2 linked regions of the Homo sapiens genome follow. The protein of the gene in region 2 purifies or fractionates together with the protein of the main gene of each other region. This does not show direct contact. Each region holds a gene or a part of one and is shown on either strand. Other genes may lie near its edges.

The links. The genes of interacting proteins can lie anywhere in the genome.
Region 1: the proteins of FAM219A (region 2) and SHPK purify together in Homo sapiens (affinity purification with mass spectrometry; 2 studies listed by BioGRID and IntAct, with this or other methods). This does not show direct contact.

What each region holds. Positions count from the first base shown.
Region 1 is NC_000017.11:3,629,411-3,633,442, forward strand, and holds part of SHPK (sedoheptulokinase), read right to left. Parts: intron 937-4,032; coding exon 795-936; intron 1-794. UniProt on the Homo sapiens protein: Acts as a modulator of macrophage activation through control of glucose metabolism.
Region 2 is NC_000009.12:34,448,373-34,452,440, reverse strand, and holds part of FAM219A (protein FAM219A), read left to right. Parts: intron 1-4,068.

The DNA of each region.
Region 1 (4,032 bases), on a different chromosome or scaffold from region 2:
GAAATGCTTAGCAACTGAACCCATAAAAAGGATATGCCGGCCGGGCATGGTGGCTCACACCTGTAATCCCAGCACTTTGGGAGGCTGCCGGTGGATCATTTGAGGTCAGGAGTTCGAGACCAGCCTGGCCAACATGGTGAAACCCCGTCTCTACTAAAAATACAAAAATTAGCTGGGCGTGGTGGCAGGCACCTGTAGTCCCAGCTACTCTGGAGGCTGAGGCAGGAAGACCACTTGAACTCGGGAGGCAGAGGTTGCAGTGAGCTGAGTTTGCGCCACTGCACTCCAGCCTGGGTAACAAGAGTGAAACTCCACCTTAAAAAAAAAAAAAAAAAAAGATATGCCCTGGAATTTTCAAAATCACAAATATGTAAACAACGACAAATGTGCCCCAATTCAAAAGCATGCCCTCCATGTCCTGGCATCTCCTGCAGCTATAGCCAGTCTCTCGGTTGTCTGCACTAATGTTCTGAGATACTGACATGGTAAAGAGAAAGCTATGGAAAATGCACTCTGCTGAATCCTTCAGGAGAATCCGAGAAAACACTCTCTTCCCTCTGCCTGTTCGTGGATAACGTGCTGATGATGTGGGAGTGGGCAGTTCCTTTGTTCACCTAACATTGGTACAGAATGCTCACCCACGCAGGAGGCAGCACGTATTCGTCCACTCCAAGAAACAAGACCCTATTCCCACTGCAGGATAACCCGACCCTTCACAGAAAGCCCCGCACAGCACTGCTCTAGTTCTGGAAGTGACTGCTACCAGCCTGAGAGCATCCCCGAGCCCAGCATACCTTGGCCTGTTTTCCAAAACACGACTCCATGCATCTGGCCCGACACCCCGATGCCCACGACGCTCCGGAGCTGGGGTCGGGGAAGGGCAGCAAGGCACTCGTGTAGGGCTTGGAGGATTCTACTCACATCCTGCTCCCGCCCCTGGAAGCAAAAGAGAACACATGGGCAGGGGCAGACACACAGGCAGGGGGAGGGGCGCAGGCCTCCCGGGATGTCCTGGAGGAGGAATGCAGTGGGCAGCATCCACTCCCTAACTTCACAGTTGAGGCACTGCTGCAGGTGAGTTGCAGCAAACTGCCTGGGCCTGCCCTCCACTGGGGTCAGACTCAGCTGAGAACAGCATTCTCTGTGCTATAAATAGAAGAAATAAGGCCAGGCACTGGTGGCTCAAGCCTATAATCCCAGCACTTTGGGAGGCCAAGGTGGGTGGATCACCTGAGGTCAGGAGTTCGAGACCAGCCTAGCCAAACAACATGATGAAACCCCGTCTCTACTAAAAATACAAAAAATTAGCCGGGTATGGTGGCATGCACCTGTAATCCCAGCTACTCAGGAGGCTGAGGCAGGAGAATCGGTTGAATCTGGGAGGCGGAGGTTGCGGTGAGCCGAGATCACGCCACGGCACTCCAGCCTGGGTGACAAAGTGAGACTCCATCTCAAAAAAACCAACTAGAGGAATCCACAGAAAGTTCAGAAGAGAAGAAGGGGAAGAGAATTGTGGCTCAGCTCTCAATAAATGTCAGCTCTTTGAGGAACTAGCAAAGCTAAGGTCTTAGAAAGGCATCTGAAGGCTGAGTTCTCAGACGTCTTGCTTCCCTCCCGGGAGTGCTGTCTTCCCCTCCTCGGAAAACCTCTCGCTTGCCCCTGTCAGCCTGCGGCCTTGGTCAGGGGCAGCTCTTGGCTCCTAACAAGCAGGAACAAAGAAGAGAAAGAAGGGAGGAGAGGAGGGGTAGGATGGGGCAGGGAGTACAGGGGAAGCACAGCCTTTTCCTAGGAAGCAGCCCCAGAGCTCAACAAGGATTCTACATGCAAGAGAGGCCACAGCCAAGAGGAAGTGGAAGACAAGAGGCACAGAGGAGCCAGGTGGCTATGCAGGATCACCAGAGGGAGGAAAGAAGAGCAGGGTGGGGACATGGGGGTGGGGGGCAGGAAGAAGGGTTCTGGGAATAGACATTTGTTTAGACCCTCACTGTCCAATACTGAAATCGTTAGCCACTTGTGGCTAGTCTGAATTGACATGTAAATGTAAAACATGCACCGGACTACAATTTAGTATGACAAAAAATATACACTATCTAATTTAATGCTTTTTTTTTTTTTTTTTTTTTTTTTTTAGCGATAGAGTCTCTCTCTATTGCTCAGGCTAGAGTGCAGTGGCATAATCTTGGCTCACTGCAACCTCTGCCTCCCAGGTTCAAGTGATTCTCCTGCCTTAGCCTCCGGAGTAGCTGGGATTACAGGCTCACACCACCACGCCGGGCTAATTTTTGTATTTTTAGTAGAGACGGGGTTTCGCCACGTTGGCCAGGCTGGTCTCAAACTCCTGGCCTCAGGGATTCACCCACCTCGGCCTCCCAAAGTGCTGGGATTACAGGTGTGAGCCACCGCACCCAGCCTTGATTATCACACATCAAACTGATAATGTGCTGGATACACTGGGTTAAATAAAATATGCAATTAAAATTAATTTCACTTGTTTATTTTAATAGGGCTGCTAGAAAATTGAAAAGGCCACGCCTGGCTCCATTTGTAGGTTACATTTCTTTTTTTTTGAGACGGAATCTCACTGTCACCAGGTTGGAGTGCAGTGGTGTGATCTCAGCTCACTGCATCGTCTGCCTCCCAGGTTCATGCGAGTCTCCTGCCTCAGCCTCCCAAGTACCTGGGACTATAGGTGCGCGCCACCACACCCGGCTAATTTTTGTATTTTTAGTAGAGACGGGGTTTCACCATGTTGGCCAGGATGGTCTCGATCTCTTGACCTCGTGATTCGCCCGCCTCGGCCTCCCAAAGTGCTGGCATTACAGGCGTGAGCCACCGCGCCTGGCCTGCAGGTCATATTTCTACTGGACAGAGCTAGTTTAAAGAGTCCTCCCAGCTGGGCGCAGCGGCTCACGCCTATAATCGCAGCCACTGGGAAGGTTGAAGCAGGAGATCACTTGATCCCAGAACTTTGAGACCAGCCTGAGACCAGCCTCAGCAACACAGTAAGACTCCACATGGCCATGGGGTGGTGTGTCATCCCAGGACAGAGCTGCTGTTTCAAATGGTCCCAGGGTGAGTGGGTGCGTGAGTTGTGTGGGGGGAGACACGGGAAGAAGTAAGCAGGCTGGATGTGGTAAAGACAAGGAGGCAGTGTTCAGCAGTTAGAAACAGTTTTAGGGGCGGGTGTGATTGGGGAGTAGCTCTTGGACAGACCCCCAGTGTAACAGGAATAGACATTGCCCCCACTCCTTGGCTCAGAATATCAGTTGGTCTACATCCACGTCGAATCCTCGCGCTTTAGACTTGCACACAGTACTTAGAAGCTCATTAAATCCTACTCCTCAGGCCTCTTTTTACAGCGGAGGAAACTGATGCCCAGAGAGGAAAAATAAATATAAACTGTGAAAGGGTCACAGAACTGCCCTCGAAAACCTTGTATTTTAAATGGGCAAATACCAAAAACTGATTGTCTGCACAGCTGCCAAGCTTGACCCTGGTATAGCTAATACTTATGAGTGAAAAGTATGAACTTGAGGAAAGAACACAGCCAGCAGATATTACTTTTTTTTTTTTTTTTTTTTTTTTGGAGACAGAGTCTTACTCTGTTGCCCAGGCTGGAGTGCAGTGGTATGATCTGGGCTCACTGCAACCTCTGCCTCCCGAGTTCAAGCAATTCTCCTGCCTCAGCCTCCCAAGTAGCTGGGATTACAAGCACGCATCACCACGCCCGGCTAATTTTTGTTATTTTGTAGTAGAGACAGGGTTTCACCATGTTGGCCAGGCTGGTCTCGAACTCCTGACCTCAAGTGATCCACCCACCTCCGCCTCCCAAAGTGCTGGGATTACAGGCAAGAGCCACCGCGCCCGGCCACAGATATGACTATAGATCACTGGTTCCTACTCGGGGTGGTCTTGTCACCTAGGGAACATTTGGCAACATGGAGACATTTTTGGTTGTCACATCTGGGGAAGAGGGGCAAGCGTGGCTGGCATCTAGTGGGCCAGAGATGTTGCTAAACATTCTACAACATG
Region 2 (4,068 bases):
CTCTCAAGTTTGTGGCATGGACACCTGGATGGAGGAAGAGACCATCATCACCTCGGGAAACTCAGGAGCCCATGTACCTTTTGGTCTCAGGGACTTCTTATAACAGAGAAGGCTGCTGTTTTCCTTTGCTCTACTGCTGAAGCTACATTCTTGGGGTTGTGAGGAATCCACAAGTCCTAGAAAACCAAAGGTCAGAGTGGCATTTGTCCCCCCTCTGCCTCAAAAGGGCTGCTGAGAAACACGCTCATCTGCCAGTGAATACTTCTCCCCTGCAACCTGCTTTGATGAATTCAAGAGAATTGGTGGTAGCAGCAAGGAGCCATAGTGGGTTTTGTTGTTGTTATTTTCTTTCCAGTAGCACTTTGATGAATAAAAAATAAAATCCTTTGTTGTCTGAGTGCTTTATGTTGCAGTTTCTGGCTTTGCCTTTTACCATCGTTCTAGTCAAATCTATGGGTTTTTTTCTGACTGATTGAGCTGGGCTCTTTCACTGATTCCTTCTGGAATGTATATATGTATTACTACATCACTGCAAGATGTCAAAATGGAAAAGGACACGTACTTTCCTTTTCTGAGACCAGCCTGAAAAGCTGCAGTTGGGTGGAAGCAGAGCCCAACCGTTTCTTCCAGGCAAGGTGTACCAAAGGAGCAGAATTCTGGGGTGAGATCACTCAGAGGTCACTTGGCTTCTCAGAGGTCCCAGTGTGGCCTCTGTGGGTAGGTGCTTCTGTGGTAGCTGGGGTTCAGGCTGAGTCATTCCCAGCCCCAGCTGCCTGCTGCCCTTGACTGCCTATATAGCCCAGAGTGAGCAGAAATGGAAAACAGGCTTCTTCACTCAAACCTGATTAGTCTCAGGGACCCTCTCACCTCCTTAAAAAGGCAGGTGGAGCCTCGTGTCTGGAAAGGGAACATGGGAAATTTAGCTTCTTGGGCTTAGCTGCTTCGTGCCTTCCTAGAGACCTGGGAGAACTGGTTCAGGGAGCTCCAGAGCGTGTGGAAAGGGGAGAATTGGGCTGAGGCAGATAACCAGAGGTGCTGGTTGAAGGAAGCTAGAGGTGTGGCTCAGCAGGGTCCCAAGTCATTGTTTCTTAAATAGGCTCTGATGGGAATCTGGCTTTCTGGGCAGGAGAAAGGAAGGAAGGAAGGAGGGGAACCAGCTCTGGATTTGAGTCTGCTCTGGAGTTTAGAAATTGGCACATGATCCACAGGCCTCACTGTGGGACAGCCAAATCAACTTCTGGCTGCAGGGAGGGACTCTGGAGTAGGGAAGTCATCTAGGAAAGAGGCCTGTAGCATCTGGCCTGGGAGAGAGGGTAGACACATGCCCGCAGGAGTTTCCTCCTAGGCTTTACATTCTCAGGAGAGAGTTCAAGCAAATCTGTACTTGTATTTGTTGTTATTATTGTTATTCAGAGATAGCAAATTGAGGATCGGATGGTTTGGTTATTGAAGGTCAATTTTAAGTTTCTGTGATGGCGGTGAGGTATGTGAGTGTGCATGCAAGAGGGGACATACAGCTATGAATGGTGTTTTCTGAATGACCGTTCCAGCCCTAAGTCTAAACATATGACAAGAGGCCACACCCAGGCAGAAACAAGACCAGTGACTGTGGCTCCTTGCCTGGTTTTGCCTGATTTAGCCATCAGATTCTTGGCTGTTATAAGCAGAGTACATCCCATCTATCGAGAACAATACCTGAAGGAGCATTTTAAGGTTTATTGAATTGGCCGGGCGCAGTGGCTCACGCCTGCAATCCCAGCACTTTGGGAGGCCGAGGCGGTGGATAACCAGGTCGGGAGTTCAAGAACAGCCTGGCCAAGATGTTGAAATCCCGTCCCTACTAAAAATACAAAAATTAGCCGGGCATGGTGGTGGCCACCTGTAATCCCAGCTACTCGGGAGGCTGAGGCAGAAAATTGCTTGAACCCAGGAGGTGGAGGTTGCAGTGAGCTGAGATTGTGCCACTGCACTCTATCCTGGGTGACAGAGCAAGACTCCGTCTCAAAAAAAAAAAAGATGTATTGAATTAACTACATGCAAACTGTGGAGTGAGAACCACATATATTTCACCACATAAACATAATTATGTACAAGGTATAAATTATAGTTCCCCCCACTTTTTTTTTTTTTTTGAGACAGGGTCTCTGTCACCGAGGCTGGAGTACAGTGGCTTAATCTTGGCTCACTGCAAACTCCGCCTCCCAGGCTCAAGCGATCCTCCTGCCTCAGCCTCCTGAGTAGCTGGGACTACATTCACGCGCCACCATACCCAGCTAATTTTTTGTATTTTTTGTAGAGAAGGGGTTTCGCCATGTTGCCTAGACTGGTCTCAAACTCCTGAGCTCAAGCGATCTATTCACCTTGGCCTCCCAAAGTGCTGGGATTACAGGTGTAAGCCACCACGCCCGACCTAGTTCCCATATTAATTTCCCATTTTATCCTTATGAAGGAATTGGTGAAGCCCTTGGCCACGCACCATGCACGGTTTAGACCAGCATTTCCTATAGTATTCTGTTAGGAATATTGATCCTTTGGGATGCTTCATGAGGGAAAAAGTCTCCGTAGAAAAATTTCTTTGGGAAAGACTATATGCTCTATCCCATCACAATGCCCACTGACGTTTTAAAGACTCTGAGATATCCTGCAGTAAAGGAACCTTTTCAACTTTGTTTAATTCAGTGTTTCCCAAGCTTATTTAACTATAGAACCTTTTTTCATGTTACATCTGTTAACATCTTACAGAACCAATGTGTTTCATGGGAAATACTCTTTGGAAAACTTTAGCTTAGAAATTAGTATCTGTGCTGATCCAGTCTAGATTTATAGTCTTCCTAGTTCTTTTAAATGTCTTTTATAACCCACACCATTTTGCCCTATGCTAGTTAGTGTCTAATGGGATGTTGCTGATTTGTTTCAGGGTCTGAACTTGCTATTAGTAGGAAGCTCTTGGTGAACTTTGGTTAGGTGCACAGGCAAATACCAAGTGCCTTGTTTTTCTCATAATATTTCTAAGGGAGTTTTATTTCCCTTATGTCCCTCTACCAAATGCTGGTTTGATCCTTATTTTTTTTGGACAACTTTATTGAGATATAATTTATATATTGTATACACTAGCCATTTAGTACTTTACTGTTTTTTGAGACACAGTTTCACTCTGTCTCCTACAGCCTTGACCTTCCCCAGCTCAGGTGATCCTCCCACCTCAGCCTCCCAAGTAACTAGGACTACAGGTGTGCACCACCATGCCCAGCTAATTTTTGTTTTTTTCTGGTAGAGATGGGGTTTCGCCATGTTGCCCAGGTTGGTCTCAAATTCCTGGGCTCAAGAGATCCACCTGCCATGTCCTCCCAAAGTGCTAAGATTACAGGTGTGAGCCACTGCACCCAGCTAGTACTTTACTTTTAAACCAGTGTGGCTATCCCATGGCTGAGGTTTTTTTTTTTTTTCCGATAGTTTTTGGGGAACAGGTGGTTTTTGGTTATGTGGATAAGTTCTTTGGTAGTAATTTCTGAGATTTTGGTGCACCTGTCACCCAAACAGTGTACAATGTACCCAACATGTAGTCTTTTATCCCTCATCCTTCTCCCACCCTTCCCCTGTGAGTCCCCAGAGTCCATTATATCATTCTTATGCCTTTGTGTCCTCATAGCTTAGCTCCCACCATGGCCTAGTTCTATTTCTCATTTTTACCTTGGGCTGTGCTCTATGCTTTTATGTTCTGCCAAGCAGTAGAGAAGATAAAGATAATCCAAATCTTTTATCAGGAAGAATCCCATCTCAATTGAGATTTAAGGTGAAAAGTGGATTCCCCGATTAGGGGATGTTTCAGTACTTCCTCTGCAGTATCAATAAATGTTCTCACTGTTCACAACAGCTCAAGAAACATTCCTGCATAATTATTTTATACCCTCCTACTCCACAGGCTACATAAAGCATGGATGATAAACAGGCATTACCCTTCATGCCAATGCCCCTTGATCAGTAGTTGCTGCCTGGAGCATTGTGTTAAGATGGATGCTAAGGTGGACTCCTGGTTCCATATGAAAGACTGACATGGTTTGGTTGATT